3 separate regions of the Homo sapiens genome follow, and regions 2 and 3 are each linked to region 1. Evidence: fine-mapped expression QTL. A gene starts in region 1. Each other region holds a variant in brackets. All regions are shown on one strand. Distances are from middle to middle.

What was found. PIP is the estimated chance that this variant, and not a neighbour inherited with it, causes the effect. A credible set is the group of variants that fine-mapping cannot tell apart.
Region 2: its variant is the best candidate, but not a certain one, in a credible set for the expression of STARD5 in skin (TwinsUK, PIP 0.82).
Region 3: its variant is the best candidate, but not a certain one, in a credible set for the expression of STARD5 in monocytes (Quach 2016, PIP 0.52).

What each region holds. Positions count from the first base shown.
Region 1 is chr15:81,322,010-81,327,236 of GRCh38, forward strand. STARD5 (StAR related lipid transfer domain containing 5) reads right to left here and starts at 2,132. Exons shown (of 6, transcript NM_181900.3): 1 at 1,992-2,132; 2 at 890-939; 3 at 399-531. The coding sequence starts at 2,090. TMC3-AS1 (TMC3 antisense RNA 1) reads left to right here and starts at 2,324. Exons shown (of 7, transcript NR_120365.1): 1 at 2,324-2,552. RefSeq lists a silencer at 2,624-2,673.
Region 2 is chr15:81,350,735-81,355,961 of GRCh38, forward strand. TMC3 (transmembrane channel like 3) reads right to left here. Exons shown (of 22, transcript NM_001080532.3): 9 at 4,991-5,034; 10 at 960-1,107. The region is part of intron 3 of TMC3-AS1 (TMC3 antisense RNA 1); the gene reads left to right. Among named protein-coding and RNA genes, the nearest start is that of TMC3, 21 kb to the right of the region's middle. The variant CTG/C (reference allele first, on the strand shown) is at 2,470.
Region 3 is chr15:81,284,286-81,289,512 of GRCh38, forward strand. IL16 (interleukin 16) reads left to right here. Exons shown (of 19, transcript NM_172217.5): 10 at 1,413-1,545. Among named protein-coding and RNA genes, the nearest start is that of STARD5, 37 kb to the right of the region's middle. RefSeq lists an enhancer at 2,493-2,572. The variant A/G (reference allele first, on the strand shown) is at 2,702.

The sequences.
Region 1 (5,227 bases):
GTTGGATGCATGTAAGCAAAAAGCGTGAAGACCCTCATACCAGAGGGTAACTGGGGTCATGCAGGTACGTGGAGCTGCTACTGGCCCAGGCTTCAGGGAAGTGGGTGCCAGGGGCTGAGGATCCTGTGTTGCCTAGTGCAGCAGCCCCACACAAGGAACAGGTATGCTCCCCGCAGAGACTCTGTTTGGGGCTTCTCTCCCTCTCTGAGTCATGAGGTTTCCCACCGGGAAACTGGGCTGAGGCAGGCCTCCAATGCTGCAAGCAGTGGGCAGCCTGTGCTTGCAGGACACACCCCCTTAACAAAAGGTATCACGGACCCCTTCCAGAAGAAATGGGAGGGGGTTACTATAGCCTGGCCCAGACACTATCTAGAGATAACATGCTTGGAAAGACTTACGTCAGTGATGCTTTGGATAATTTCAAAACCGGTCACATTCTCATCCCACTTCACTCGTAGGCCTCCAACAGCTGGCTTCACACAGTCCCACACCTCCTCTAGTGTCCCATATACAATGCCTTCTCCTCGGTACCTGGAGCACGAAAAGGAATTTGACCCCAACGCATCAATCAAACTTGTTATCTTGAGATTGTATCTAAGGACTAGAAGGTGGACCATGCCATGTCTGTCACTACTCTTTAGGACAGACTTGCAGAGAAGGGGCTGAAAGTCACTAGCCCCGCCTCCCTTCAGGCCTGCAGAAATGGACAGTAAGCTTTCACAAGAATACAGTTTGCTGGAAATGATTTCATTAAAAACAGTAAGGCTTTTCTGGAGGACAAGTGATCACAGGTTATAGGGTTGATTTGAATATTTTAGGAGGCAGGCCCATAAAGATACCAGGAAGGGTGCGGCACCTCTGGTAATCTTTGAACGAGGCATGCACTTACAGGTTCCCTGGAAACTCCACAGATGGCCTCCAGGAAACTGAAACTCCATTCTGTCAAAAGGCACAGAACCACAGAATTTTAGAGCTAGAAGGGCTCTGGTCACCTGGCTTAATCCCCTGTTCTACAGAAGAGGGGTAAGAGGCCTCAAGAGATACGACTCTCCAAGGCTGTGCAACCCATACGTGGAAAAGCTGGGACTAGTCTTGGGCAAAGCTGTCCCCACAGCAGAATGTGATGAAGAAAAAGATCTTAACTGGCTGACTCCAAGAGCCGTGGGTGGTTTTTAAAATTATCTTAAAAGCCACCAGGCATTCTGTTTCCTTGAGCAACCCAGGGCTACTTAATGAAAAGTCAGAAGGGTCAAGCAAAACTACTCCCATGCTACCCTCTGGCAACGACAAAGAGAGGGGTTCATGCTGTAATGAAAAGTCAGAAGGGTCAAGCAAAACTACTCCCATGCTACCCTCTGGCAACGACAAAGAGAGGGGTTCATGCTGTAATGAAAAGTCAGAAGGGTCAAGCAAAACTACTCCCATGTTACCCTCTGGCAACGACAAAGAGAGGGGTTCATGCTGTAATGAAAAGTCAGAAGGGTCAAGCAAAACTACTCCCATGCTACCCTCTGGCAACGACAAAGAGAGGGGTTCATGCTGTAATGAACACAGAAGAAAACCTTAGTATGCATCAGATGCTGGATCAGACTTTACTGGATTTAAACAACATGTAAAAACCTCCTTAGCTGCGACCACATTCTTTCATTTTGTTTTGTTTTTAAACACCTGCTTACCCCTTAAATGCAATTTATTTACTTTTACCACTGTCACAGAAACATCCAGTCCTAAACAGCATTCAACAGCCAGGTGACCTTGGGCAAGTCACTGAGTGAAAGGAACAGATACTTACCACCTGAAGTCATTGTGAGCATAACAGGCCCAATCTTTTTTTTAAAGAAGAAAACAATCCCCATTGGAATCCCTCTCAATCGGGTCCAGGGGATTGGGGAGCAGAAAACAACGGGGAGAGGAGGCGCTTGGGGGCTTCTGGGGACCCGGGCTCCACGAAGCCGTCTCCGCGACCCCTTCCCGCCCAGCTCCTCACTCACGCCTTCCCGGCAAATCTTCCAGCCTGCTGTGTCCCGCCGGTACTGGAGCATCTTCTCGGCCACAGCCTCGCTCATCTGGGCTGCCAGCGCCGGGTCCATTGCGTCGGGAGCTGCGCTTAGCTGCGGGGTCGCGGGTGTTATGAGCGGCGGCGCTGGATCCCGGGTGCCTGGAGGCTGGAGCTCTGGGAGGAGCTCGTAGCCCCGCCTCTTTCCGCGCCCCCGCTCCCGAATTGGTCCAGGCCCTCAGACGGATCCCGCCTCCCGGAGATTGGCAGGACAAGGAGACCGCGGGGCCAGGCTCTCCAGTTAGCGTCAGCGCCTGGGCGGGTCCCGGACGCCTTGGGCGGGCCGGGTAAGGTCCAGCCGTATCCGCCTCCTTCATGTCCCGCTGTGGGAGGGGCTCTGGAGCGCCGGGACTGTGAGATGGCCAATGACGGTCTGACCCGTTGGGCCGGGCCAGGTCGCGGACAACGTCGACCGTTTGTTTAAGAAGCGTGGACTCTTGTCCTGAGTGCACCGAGGCTTTCAGCCTGCGGGACAGTGGTGCGATTTGCATTAGAGGTAATATGCTAGGGCGGCTGCTGCAGGGTGGGAGAGGAAATGCGCGTGGAGACTGGGCGCGTGCAATGGTGGGAGAGGTGTGTGGCAGGGGTGCGGGGAGTGGGGGTGAAGAGAAGAGGACCCATCGTAGAGTGTTTAGGAGATGGAAGGTGAAGGTCTCTGCCCCCGATTGTGGATGTTCAGAAGGAGAAAGCATCATGACTCCCAGCCTTGGCCACCTGGCAGCTTACCTGAGATGGAGAAGAGATAGGGTGAGTTCAGTTCTGGGCATATTTAGTTGGAGGTGCCTGAAGGGCCTTTAGTGCAGGTGTCCAGGAGTCAATGCAATGCGCTGACATCTGCGAGAGGCCCGGCTTTATTAGAGATATGGGAGTTCTCTGCTTCCAGCTGCCCTGGAGCTGCGGGGAGTGAGCCAGGGTCGCATCTTCACAGCGTGAATGGCAAGGACAGCCTCGGTTTCCCCTCTTCTGCGCTATCACCAACTAAATATTTGAAAAGGTTAATACTGAGGTCTATTTCTTATCTTTCTTTTTTATGTACTTATTGTTTCCTTTAAACTTTCGATATAAATGTTTGGAAGAGTAGTGTAAACAAATTGACAACTTGAAAGACCTTTTTGGAAGATGTGAAGGGCAGCCAGGCTGTGAAGAAGACCTGGATGGGGAATTAGGGAGCTCAAGATCTAAACCCAGTTTCACTCATTATTCTTTGAGCTTCAGTTTACTCCAAGGTGAAATGGGATACATCATAAATGTTCCTGGCGGGGTCCGGTGGCTCACGCCTGTAATCCCAGCACTTTGGGAGGCTGAGGCAGGAGATCACTTGAACCTAGGAGTTCGAGACCAGCCTGAGCAGCATGGCGAGACTCCGTCTCTACTAAAAATTCAAAAATTAGCCGGGCATGGTGGCGCGGGGCTGTAATCCCAGCTACTTGGGGGGGCTGAGGTGGGAGGATCGCTTCAACCCGGGAGGCAGAGGCAGCAGTGAACCGTGATCGCGCCACTGCACTCCAGCCTGGGCTGCAGAGCAAGATCCTGTCTCAAAAAGTAATAAAAATAAACAAACAAACAAATAAATGTTCCCTATGCCCTTGTGAAGAGAGAGGGAAGTAACGCATGTAAATACTCTTAGGACCCATAAAAGAAAAGACTAGTAAATTAATCCCATTAAAAAATTAAGCACATCAAAATTTCATAAAAAGTTAGATAATATGAGAAAAAAATCGGGACACACTTTAACACATAAGTTTTCTTATCGAACCAAGGGCTCATACAAATCATTAAGCAATTTTCAGACAACCCCATAAACAAAAAGAATGCATTAGACATGGAAAGATACTTTGTGGAAAAATTAATTGACATGGCTAACAAAGCTATAAAAAGATGCAGAACCTCACTCATTGTTAGGGAATTAAAAATTAAAGCAAGGAGAGGCTTTTCTTAAAACCTATTGATGGACAAACATGAAGTTTGTTTATACCCTGTGTTGGTGAGGGTATGGAGAAATAGTTGTTACACAGCGGATGAGAGTACAAATGTATGCAACCTCCTGGGAACAGAATAACAACATATATTAAAATTTTACTCTACTTGTTCTTTGATCCAGTGACTCTTCCTGCACAAAGATGCATAAAATTAATCTTGCAACTGGAAGTAACCTATTTACCAGTATATTAACCAAAGTTATAGAACATCCACTTAGTGGAATATTATGTAGCCATCAAAATAACCTAGCCCAGATGGTGGAAAGTGGGGATGGAGTAGACCCCCTGCAGGACTATAGTAGCACTATTTTGCTCCTAGGAAATGGGAACGTCTGGATATACAAAATATTTGGAGAAGCAAACTGTCCCCGAGGCCTGTGACAAACTGGAAGTAGGAGATTGGTGAGGTCAGGGCAGCCTTCAAGCAGAACACTCATTTATTTTATCACCGGAGGCCGGCACAGGGCAGAGTGAGCAGATGATTGGAACAGAGGGAAGGTGAGAGCTGCCCACACAGTGTTTGCCAGGGGCCTGGGACAGAAATCTATTTTGTAGTCTGTCTGAGGCTGCAGTTTGGAGCTGAAGGGGATGGAGGAATGACTGAGCTCTGGAGATTCCACTGATCAGAGCCCTTCCCACAAGGTCCTGAGAGGGCTCTGAGTCACCCAGTTGTCCACCAGACTTCATCAAAGTCCCAGGTGAATACAATTAATAGGTGTATATGGGAGCAGGTAGCCCAGTAGCTTCTAACTCAACACCACCACTAGACAGACTATAGAGGGGATGGGCCCAAGTGTCCACATGCTCCAGTCTTACAAGGCCCTGAATAGAGTGGAGTATCTGCTTTCCACTTAGACACTGATGAAGAATTGCATGCATATTTACTAAGTTAGCTTGGGCAGGTGCTATGTGAATCTACAAATGTAAGCACGTCGGTATGTTTATTGCTTACTCAGCAATAGCTAATCGTTACTCAGCACTTACTTCTTGCTAGCCACTATCCTAAGCACTTTACCTGTTTTGGGCCATTTAACTTAACAATACCGCAGCACCATGAGATAGAGACTACTACTCCCATTTTGCAAGTTAAGAAAGTGAAGATCATGTAGGGTATCCAAGGCCACATAGCTGGGAAGTGGCAGAGCTGTGGCAAACATACGATTTCTATTTCCAAAGGCCAAATGTTTACTCA
Region 2 (5,227 bases), 29 kb after region 1:
GAGGTGGTTTTTGTGCTATTTCTGCCTTTCAAATCTGTATAGATAAATTGGGCCAACCTTTCAGGACAATGGTCTTAAAATGAATATTTAGAATTCCAAAATTGTTCATAACCGTTCACTTGGTGATTTTCTATTTATGGGAATATTCACACAACGGGGGTTGGGGGGGAGAAGATTGTTTAAAAAACAAACCATTTGTGTAGAGCTGGTTCTGGAAGCATTATTTGTCATTTAGATATTCAGAAACTACCTAAATATTCACGAATGACACCTGGTCAACTTTAATCCATACTATGGAATAAGTGTAGTTGTTAATTCCAGTCTGCAGGAATGTGGAACATGGATGTGAAGAAACAGATGTGCAAAAGGCAAAACACAGTCGGTGAGGCTCAAAGGTAGAGAACGGTGTAAATGCTTGAAGGTGTTTTTGAATCAAACTCTTTCCCAAAGGAGATGAATAAAATTGCCAAGCCTTAGTGCTGCCCCTCTGGCTCAAAGTCCTTATAGTCAATGCTCTAGGACAAGAGGACTAAAGTTTTTTCCTAGAGATATTCCCACCTAACTTACATAAGGAACAGAGAGGCAGGCTACTTTTCTGTGTCTCTCTCTCTCTCTTTTTTTTTTTTTTTTTTTTTTGAGACAGAGTCTCGCGCTGTTGCTCACACTGGAGTGCAGTGGCGTGATCTTGGCTCACTCTAGCCTCCGTCGCCTGGGTTCAAGGATTCTCCTGCCTCAGCCTCCTGAGTAGCTGGAACTACAGGTGTGCACCACGACGCCCAGCTAATTTTTGTGTTTTTGGTAGAGATGGGGTTTCATCATGTTGGCCAGGCTGGGCTGGAACTCCTGACCTCAAGTGATCCACCTGCCCCAGCCTCCCAAAGTGCTGGGATTACAGGCATCAGCCACTGTGCCCAGCTATGTCTCTTTTCTAGGGTGCTGCAGGTAATGGCAGTGGGTACCTCATTCTTTTCCCAAAGTGTCAGCTCCTTCTTCGACTGCTCCAGCTTCTGGGACCGGTCCACCACAAAGTAGATGAGATAAATGCTCCCAGCCAGTGAGAGAAGCACCAGGATGTTGGCAATAATCCTCAGGCAGATGGTCACTGCCCTGGGGAGAGAAACAGGCATGAGAACGGTACACAGGGTCCTGCTCACAGCACCACGATGCAAAGACAACACTACTTGGGGACTGGAACACATCCATTGCCAAGAGGATTCTCTGCCCTGAAGCATCAATGCACTTCCAGCCCACCCCACCCAGCACCCTAGAATTCCTCATTTTCTAAGAGATCAACGACCAGTCATAAATTCAACCAGCCTGCATCAGTGGGGTTTGAAACAAACAGACGAACAAATAAACGCCTCTTGTTTTAGAGTCAGAGTATTTGGGGTTCAGTTCTAGCTTCACTACTTGAAATTGGAGTCTTGTGGTATGCACATTAAAGATATAGGAATTCAAGTAAATGTGTTCAGCAGAGGGAGGGAGGAAGGAAGGCAGGGAGGAAGAGAGGAAGGGAGGACACATGATTCTGCCTGTCATCCCATATAATGAATCTGACATTGTACAGTCATGTGCCGCATAATGGCATTTTGGTCAATGACGGACTGCATATATGACAGTGGTTCCATAAGATTATATTGGAGCTGAAAAATTCCTATGGCCTAGGACATTGTAGCATGATGCATTGCACTCACATTTGTGGTGATGCTGGTGTAAACAAGCCTACTGCACTGCCAGTTGTATAAAAGTATAGTACATACAATTATGTACAGTACATATTTGATAATGAATTAAATGACTGTTACTGGCTTATGTATTTACTATATTTTTTAAATCATTATTTTAGGGTATACTTCTACTTATTTAAAACAAAATGTTAACTGTAAAACAGCCTCAGGCAGGTCCTTCAGGAGGCATCCAGGGTAAGGCACTGTTACCATAAGAGATGACACCTCCGTGCGTGTTATGGCCCCGAAGACCTTCCAGTGGGACAAGATGTGGAGGTGGAAGGCAGTGATATTGATTATCCTGACTCCGTGCAGGCCTAGGCTAATGTGTGTGTTAGTCTTTTGTTTGTTTGTTTTTTGTTTGTTTGTTTGTTTGAGATGGCATTTTGCTCTTGTTGCCCAGGCTGGAGTGCAATAGCACAATCTCGGCTCACTGCGACCTCTGCCTCCTGGGTTCAAGCGATTCTCCTGCCTCAGCCTCCTGAGTAGCTGGGATTTACAGGCATTTGCCACCACACCTGGCTAATTTTTGTATTTTTAGTAGAGACTGGGTTTTCCCATGTTGATCAGGCTTGTCTCAAAACTCCTGACCTCAGGTGATCTGCCCGCCTCGGCCTCCCAAAGTGCTGGGATTACAGGTGTGTGCCACCACATCCGGCCTGGTCTTAGTTTTTAACAAAAAAAGTGTAAAAAGTTAAAAAAATTAAAAATAAAGCTTATAGAATAAGGATATAAAGAAAAA[CTG/C]TTTTTGTACAGCTGTACAATGTGATTGTGTTTTAAGTATTACAAGAGTCAAACAGTTTTTTAAAATTTAAAAGTTCATAAACAAGTGACAGTAAACTAAGATTAATTTATTATTAAAGAAACTTTAAGAAATAAATATAGTGAGGCCTAAATGTACAGTGTTTATAAAGTCTACGCTAGTATGCAGTTGTGTCCTGGGCCTTCACATTCACTAATCACTCATTCATTGACTCACTCAGAGCAACTTCCAGTCCTGTAAGCTAATTCATGGTAAGTTCCCTATACAGGTGTACCATTTTTTAATCTTTTATACCACATTTTTATTGTACCTTTCTATGTCTAGATATGTTTAGATACACAAATACCATTGTGTTACAATTGCCTACGGTATTTAATACAAGTAGCATGCTGTTCAGGTTTGTAGCCTAGGAGCAATTGGCTATACTATATAGCCTAGGTGTGTAGTAGGCTATACCATCTAGCTCTGTGTAAGTACATGCTATGATGTTCACACAAGGACAACATTGTGTAAAGACACATTTCTTGGAATGTGATCCTGTCACTATGCAACATCTGACTATTCCTTTGGTAGTTTCTTAATTGTCTTTTCTCTTTAGAAGTAAGCTCTAAGCTTTTTAGCCTTTTTCAATGCTGTTATCTTCAGCTCTTAAAACAGGCTTAGCATATATGGATGCTTCATAAATATTTGCTAGATGAATAAGTAAATAAAGGAGCAACTAATTGCCCATGAGATGGGAGACACAGGGCTCATCTCTTTCCTAATTTGGTCTCACTTCTCATATGCCTCTGATAGTGAGGGCAGGTGTGTGAATCAGTAATGATTCTAGTACTTACATACATGTTTCTGGTTTTAACTGAAACATATCCATTTTTTTCTAACACTGGAGGACAACTCCCTGTCTGACTTCAATTGGCCTATTTTGAAGGCACCTTCTTCTGCCAACTTTGGAGCTTGTCTTAGCCTGGCTAAGGCCTGGAATCCCAGTCCTTTTTGCAGATAGTTTATTTGGGAAGTGATCTCAGAAAGCAGGAGTGGAGGTTGATCCCAGAAAGCAGGAGTGGAGGTCCTGGAGTGGAGCAGGAGAGAGGGGCCATCAGTACAAGGATATGCAATGGGGTTGGCAGCAGCTAGAGGCAAATGCAGGGCCTTCTGAGGGGCTTATGAAATGCCTGACAGAACTGTTTGCCCAGTGTGAAATAGGAAAGCATTTCTTCTATTCCCAGCGGTTCAGGGTAGCTCCATGAGCATTCACTCCCAGCATTGCACCCAGCCTCTTGGTTGCACGTGCATGTGTGTTGACTGGGATCTTGTGGGTTCCCTATGCAGCAGCCTCAGAAGATCCCTGGGGCACCAAACAGCGGGTACGAGCAAGGGGTACATGTGTGCAGCTGGTGGTGGCCTGCACAGTCCTGCCCAGTAGCAAGGGCTGGAGAAAAGTATGGCCAAGAGGATTTGAAGGGGCACCCAAGGTATACTATCTTCTCCATGAAATTTCTACCCACTGGGGACCTTGGGCAGATCACAACTCTTCCCTCTACACATGTTTTGGCCCTTGATTTGCACAATGAGGAAACATTCCCAAATGAGAAGATAAATGTCACTTTGCTTGGTAAAAATAACAACATGGCACAGTATGTTGTTATTATTATTATCAACTCTGGTGGAGGAGAGCTACAGAAAAAGAATCAGATGGCAGAATCCCATACTTTTATAGGTGAGGAACTTCAGGTTCATGAAGTTCAGGAGCATTTCCCAGGTTATCGACATTAATGACAGAGAGGACTAGAATCCATGTCTTCTGACTCCCTATGGACAGCCCTTTCCAACTCCTCCCCCACTCCCTAAGCTCCCTCATTATTCCAGAGGCTGGGTGTGTTTCCTTAATTCCCCATGTCCTTTTGTACAAGTCCTCCGAATGGGCTTTCTGCACTGTGGAAACTAATCATGAGGGCTAAATAACCAGTAAGGATGTGGGATGAACAGACCTACCTGTCTTCATGAGGTCAGGGCCATTGCCCTTCCCTGGGAATGGCTTTCCCTTTCATTAGTTCTCTGTTTGAAGGGCTTCACCCTCACCAGCATAGCTCTCAAGATCTTGAGAAGAATCTTGAACCTAGGAAATCATCTTGAAAGGCTTGTGAACACCAACTGGATAATATTTGTGTCTTATGACTAGTTTCTAAATAAAACTAGTCTTAACAGCATAAGTTGGTGCTCAAAATACCTCTTTTATTATCTAAGTAAAAGAGTAAGAAATAAGAAACTGGTCAATTTCAGACCCTGTGACCCTTGTTACAGGATCTATGGAAGGAGGAAGTCGTCCTAAATATTGCTAAGGAAAAAATCATTCAGTTCCCTCAGATCACATTATGAGAAAGGAAGAAAGAAGAGCTGCCTGACAATTATGAAAATAAGATATAGATGATCTGGTAGTTTTTGTACCAAACTAAAAATAAAACTTATCAATGAATTCAGCATGGGGAGTAATAATACCTACAGGTTTTTGCTTTTCTTTTTCTCCTGTTCTTCCAATATAGCTTCCTTTAAGAAAAATACATACAGCAATAAAAGCTTAGCATCATCATTAATTATAAATCATTAGAAATAATTTACCCAGTAATTTAGCTCATACCTTCATTGTCTAAGACTTTATTCTGTAGGATTCAATTGATATAAATGAATTAGATATCAATAATCTAATCAATTGAAAAAATATTGGCGGTTGGGAAGAGGG
Region 3 (5,227 bases), 38 kb before region 1:
TCCTTTTAAAGGGTTTCCTACAATTGCAGTGTATGGAAAAGCCATCCCTGCTTATGATGCTGTCTCTCTGGAGCTTCTGAATTAGAAAGGGATTTGCTGTTATCTGCGGGAGGGTGGCAGGTGATTTGCTGAGCTGCTCTGCTGGTTTGTGGCACATACTGCAGGTTCCATGTGGTTGTCTTGGTCCTAGTACCCTCGGACAGAGAGTACCTCCTTCTTAGATCTGCAGTGGAGTAGGGATTGTTCTGGAAGCTTCTGCTTTCCTTAGCATCTGGTGCTATACAACCATGGCCTTCAGTTACAGCAGTAAAAAGGAAGCAAGGGTGAAGGAGGATGAACTCAGCAGAAGGAAGTCACAGAACACAGCAGGGGACACAGGGAAATCAGCCTCAGGAGGCTAGAGTTCCAATCCTGGACCTGCTGATGACCAACTAGGCCAGGGGTCTGCAAACTGGGGCCTATCACTGTTTTGGTTTTGTTGTTGTTGTTGTTTTAATAAAATTATATTGGAACAAAGCCATGCTCATTTGTTTATGCCTCGTCTATGGCCACAGCTGTCATGCTATTAATATAACAGCAGAGTTGAATAGTTTCGATAAAGACAGTATGGCAAAGCATGCAACACCAAAAATATTTACTCTCTGGCCCTTTGCAGAAAAAGTTTGTCAATTCCTGAGCAGACCTAGATCAGGGAAATCTATTCAACCTCTGCAACTCAATTTCCCTATCTAGGTCGGGAAGGGGACTGGATTATACAAATCTTCCATGTATCTATGTGACCCCGTGTTTCCTACCTTTTTTTTTTTTAAGGTTTAGGTTGCTATTAACTCCCTTCCCACCTCACAACTAGAATGAATGCCATCACCTTTTCTCCTTATTTCTTTTTGCAAGAATCTCAACTGCTCTCCTGTTGAGTTATTTTTTCTCTGCCTTTTAGCACATGTAGGATGTTAGGTCCGATATTCAACATCCTGTGTGTGCTATGTTAGATCCAATCCTTCCTTCTAACTAGTCTACTTATGGGAACACAGAGGCCCAAGGAGAGGATGTGGTGGATTAAATCCTGGTTAATTGTTATTTAGTTGAATTGGCTAACCCACACCCTCAGTCTTTAATGGGCATAGTTAAATGTGAAAAGAAGGAGGAAAGTTACAGATGAACTTTTGTTAATGTTGACCCACTGTAAATAGGAAATGTCTGCTGCTTTGTGGTTGTACGGTAAGGGGGTATGGGATATGCTACTTTGGTCTGCCCTGTTCTGAGTTTTGGTCTGGTGGCTAGTGGGGTCTACTTATTCATGTGATTTTTATATCTCATCAAACAGCCCAGCCAGGAGTGGGCCCCTGGGGCAGTGACTGTTCAAATGTCTCATTGATTCACTTACTGATGGCTTCTTATTGATGCTTGCACAGGTGTGGGGACGAGATTGTGGAAATCAGTGATTCCCCTGTGCACTGCCTGACGCTCAATGAAGTCTACACGATCCTGAGTCACTGTGATCCCGGTCCAGTCCCCATCATTGTTAGCCGACATCCAGACCCACAGGTAACACCCACTGGGTTATCCTCTTCTTCTCAGGCTCACTCGTTCAGTACCAAAATTGGAACAAGAAATAGATGAAAACAGAGATGTTGCTGGCTGGGTTTGTACCTGAATTCCCAAGAATCCCTTCCAAGTTTCTGTAGTAAGAATTGTCTGCAGCAGAGGTCCACTAACAAACTCCTAGATATCAGAGGCAATTGACATTAACTTAGGGAAGCTCTTACAGCTGAGTTATAAGCTCTGGGGCAGGAAAGTAGAGACCCAGGGTCCCAGCTAGTAGACCAAGAAATTTATTCATTTATGCGTCTAGTAGGTACCCACTGTGGGAATGTCTGGAGGTAGGTACTGAAGATACAGAGGCAAGTTCATAGCACACAGTCCTGCCCTGCAGAAGCTCACAGTATCAATAAAGAGCCTGACATACAAATAATTGCAAAACAGAGATGGTAAGTCCTATGAGAATACAGGAATATAGCAGGGAATGGTTGATAAAGTAAAAAAATACCAGAGGTTAGTTTTCTCCAGGCAGAGAATATAAGGAAGATCATTCCAGGAGGTGGGAACACAAAATTCAATGTCACAGAGTCAAAAAGGGACCTGACATGGAAGGAGAGGAGTGGGTTCTGTGGGGCTGGAATGTAGGGTACTAGGTAAGAGTGACTGAGAACAGATGTTGGCAGGGCATTGGGGTTACACTGCAGAGGGCTTTCAACAGGATACTAAAGAGTTTGCATTTTATTCTACATAGTGAGGAGCTATGGGAGGTCTGTAGCTGTAGAAGGAGCATGTTCATATTTTAATTTTTAAACCTTTGATTGCACTGTAGAAGACAGGATAGAGTGGGTGGAGTGTGGGGTTTGTAAGAGGAAGGAAGCTGATGGTGAGAGCCTGAACTACACAGCAGCCATGAGAAGAGAAAAGAGAAGGGGCAATGTATTAGTCTGTTCTCCCGCTGTTGATAGACACATACCTGAGACTGGGTAGTTTATAAAGAAAAAGAGATTTAATAGACTTACAGTTCCATGTGGCTGGGGAGGCCTCACAATCACAGCAGAAGGTGAAAGGCATGTCTTACATGATGGCAGACAAGAGAGAATAAGAGCCAAGTGAAAGGGGAAACCCCTTATAAAATCGTCAGATCTTGTGAGACTTATTCACT[A/G]TCATGAGAACAGAATGGGGGAAACTGCCCCTATGACTCAATTATCTCCCACCAGGTCCCTCCCACAACATGTGGGAATTATGGGAGCTAAAACTCAAGATAAGATTTGGGTAGGGACACAGACAAACCATATCAGGCAACATGAGGCAATGCTTGGGAAGACTCAACAAGAGCTGCTGGGCAAGTGGCTCTGGGGTAAGAGAGGGAGGAACCGAAGATATCTCGAATATTTTTAGATTGGAAGACTGAGCAATGGTCTTCCACCAGAAGAGAGAAGAGGAAAAGGTAGCAGGCTTGGGAGGGAGAGAAGAGCATGATCTTACTGTGGGACATAGTGAGGTGGAGGTACCACGGGGTGTCCAGGTAAAGATGCCCAGTAGGCAAGTTAGACTTAGGGCTGATAGCAACTATAACAGGAACCCAGGCTGGAGCTAGACTTGGGGGTTGAATCCCTGCTGTTGGTGAGAGCTCTGGGGAACCTGGAATAATCACCACAAAGAATTATTTAATCTTAATATGCACCAGGCATGTTTTTCAAAGATGTGACCCACACAACTGCATTTAGTTGTTGTGCAGCCTCCTGAAATCAGTGTGATATTTCCCCCCCAACTCACAGATGAGGAAACTGAGGCTTAGAAAGGACAAATAAGTTTCCCAATGGTGAAGCTACTAAGTAAAGAAGCTAAGATTTAAATCCAGCAAAGCCTGTGCTTTGAACTCACTGACTCCCAAACTCCCAGTGACACTTGGACAGAGTGGAGTAATGAGGGAAATCAATATATAATGGTGTGGTGGAATTCAAACCCAGCCCCATTCTGTGGATTGCACACTGGAGCTAAACACAATCAGAGACAAGCAAACTTCTTAATTAAGGCAAACAAATAATTGGCCTAAATCTCTGGACAATACAAGAAAAGAAAGAGGTCCCAATTAATTTGTCATTTCCTCCTGCTGCTTTTAGGACTACGGCAGAAAATCAGTGGAGTAGGGCGTCAGGTTGTGGGCAAATGCTGTAGCCCTGGGCTTAAGGAATGTGCATTCTCCCAGAGACATGGGACACACACAGAGAGGCCACAGAGGTGAGGGCCTTGAGAGTGAGGGAGCTGGAGTTCCAGCTGCTCAGATAAGGGAGCCAGGCCAGAAAGGACAGGTAAGGTTTAGAGCAGCAGAAAGACGAAGACACCCTAGGCCGTGGAGATCCAGGGGCACAGGCATAGGGCAGAGAGAAGAGAGCCAGGCCCAGCAGCAGAATGCCTGGCATGTGTCCAGTCTGCTGCTTGCTTATGGTTAATTTGGGCAACTCATCTAACCTCCAAGAGCCTCTGGTTCCTCAACTCTGACATAGGGGAGTGGTCTTTACCTTACAGGACTGTTGTGGATGGTAACTCTCCTCTAGTAAGAGTTTACCATCTGCCAGGCATTGTGCCGCAGACTTTAAATGATTTATTTATTGTTGTTTATTGTGGTAAAATACACATAACATAAAATTTACCATCTTAACCATTTTTTAAGTGTACAGTTCAGTGGCATTAAGGACATTCTCATTGTTGTGCAACCATTGCCACCATCCGTCTCCAGAACTCTTTCCATCTTTCAGAATTTAAACTCTACCAGTTAAACAAGTCCCTATGTTCTCCTACCAGCAAATCCTGGGAACCACCATTTTACTTTCTGTCTCTGTGATTTTGACTACTCTACGTTCATCGAAGTGGAATCATATAAAATGGGTCCTTTTGTGTCTGCCTTATTTGACTTCGCGTAATGTCCTCAAGGTTCATTTATGTTGTAGCACGGGCCAGAATTTCCTTCCTTTTTAAGGTCGAATAATCTTCTAGTATGTGTATGTGTGTGTGTGTGTGTGTGCGTGTGTGTGTATCACATGCTGTTTATCATCTGTTTTTGGGTACTTGGGTTGTTTCCACCTTTTGACTATTGTGAATAATGCTACAATGAACGTGGAGTACAGATTCCTCTGAGATACTGACTTCCCTTCTTTTAGGGTATATACCCAGAAGTGGAATTGCTGGGTCATATGGTAATTCTATTTTTAAGTTTTTGAGGAGCCTTCAAACTATTTTCCACAGTGGCTACACCATTTTACATTCTTATCAACAGAGCCCAAGGGTCCCGATTTCTCCATATCCTTGCCAATACTTTGTTATTTTCTTTTCTTTTTTTGAGACTGAGTCTCACTCTGTCACCCAGGCTCGAGCGCAGTGGCACGATCTTGGCTCACTGCACTGGGTTCAAGTGATTCTCCCACCTCAGCCTCCCTAGTAGCAGGGATTATAGGTGTGTACCACTGCACAGGCTAATTTTTGTATTTTTAGTAGCGATGGGCTTTCACCATGTTGGTCAGCCTGGTCTCGAACTCCTGACCTCAAGTGATCTGCCTGCCTCAGCCTCCCAGAGTGCTGGGATTAGAAGCATGAGCTACCATGCCCAGCCTCTTTTCTTTTTGTTTATAGTAGCCATCCTAATGTCCTAATGTGTGTGAGGTGGTAACTCAGTGTGGTTGTGATTTGC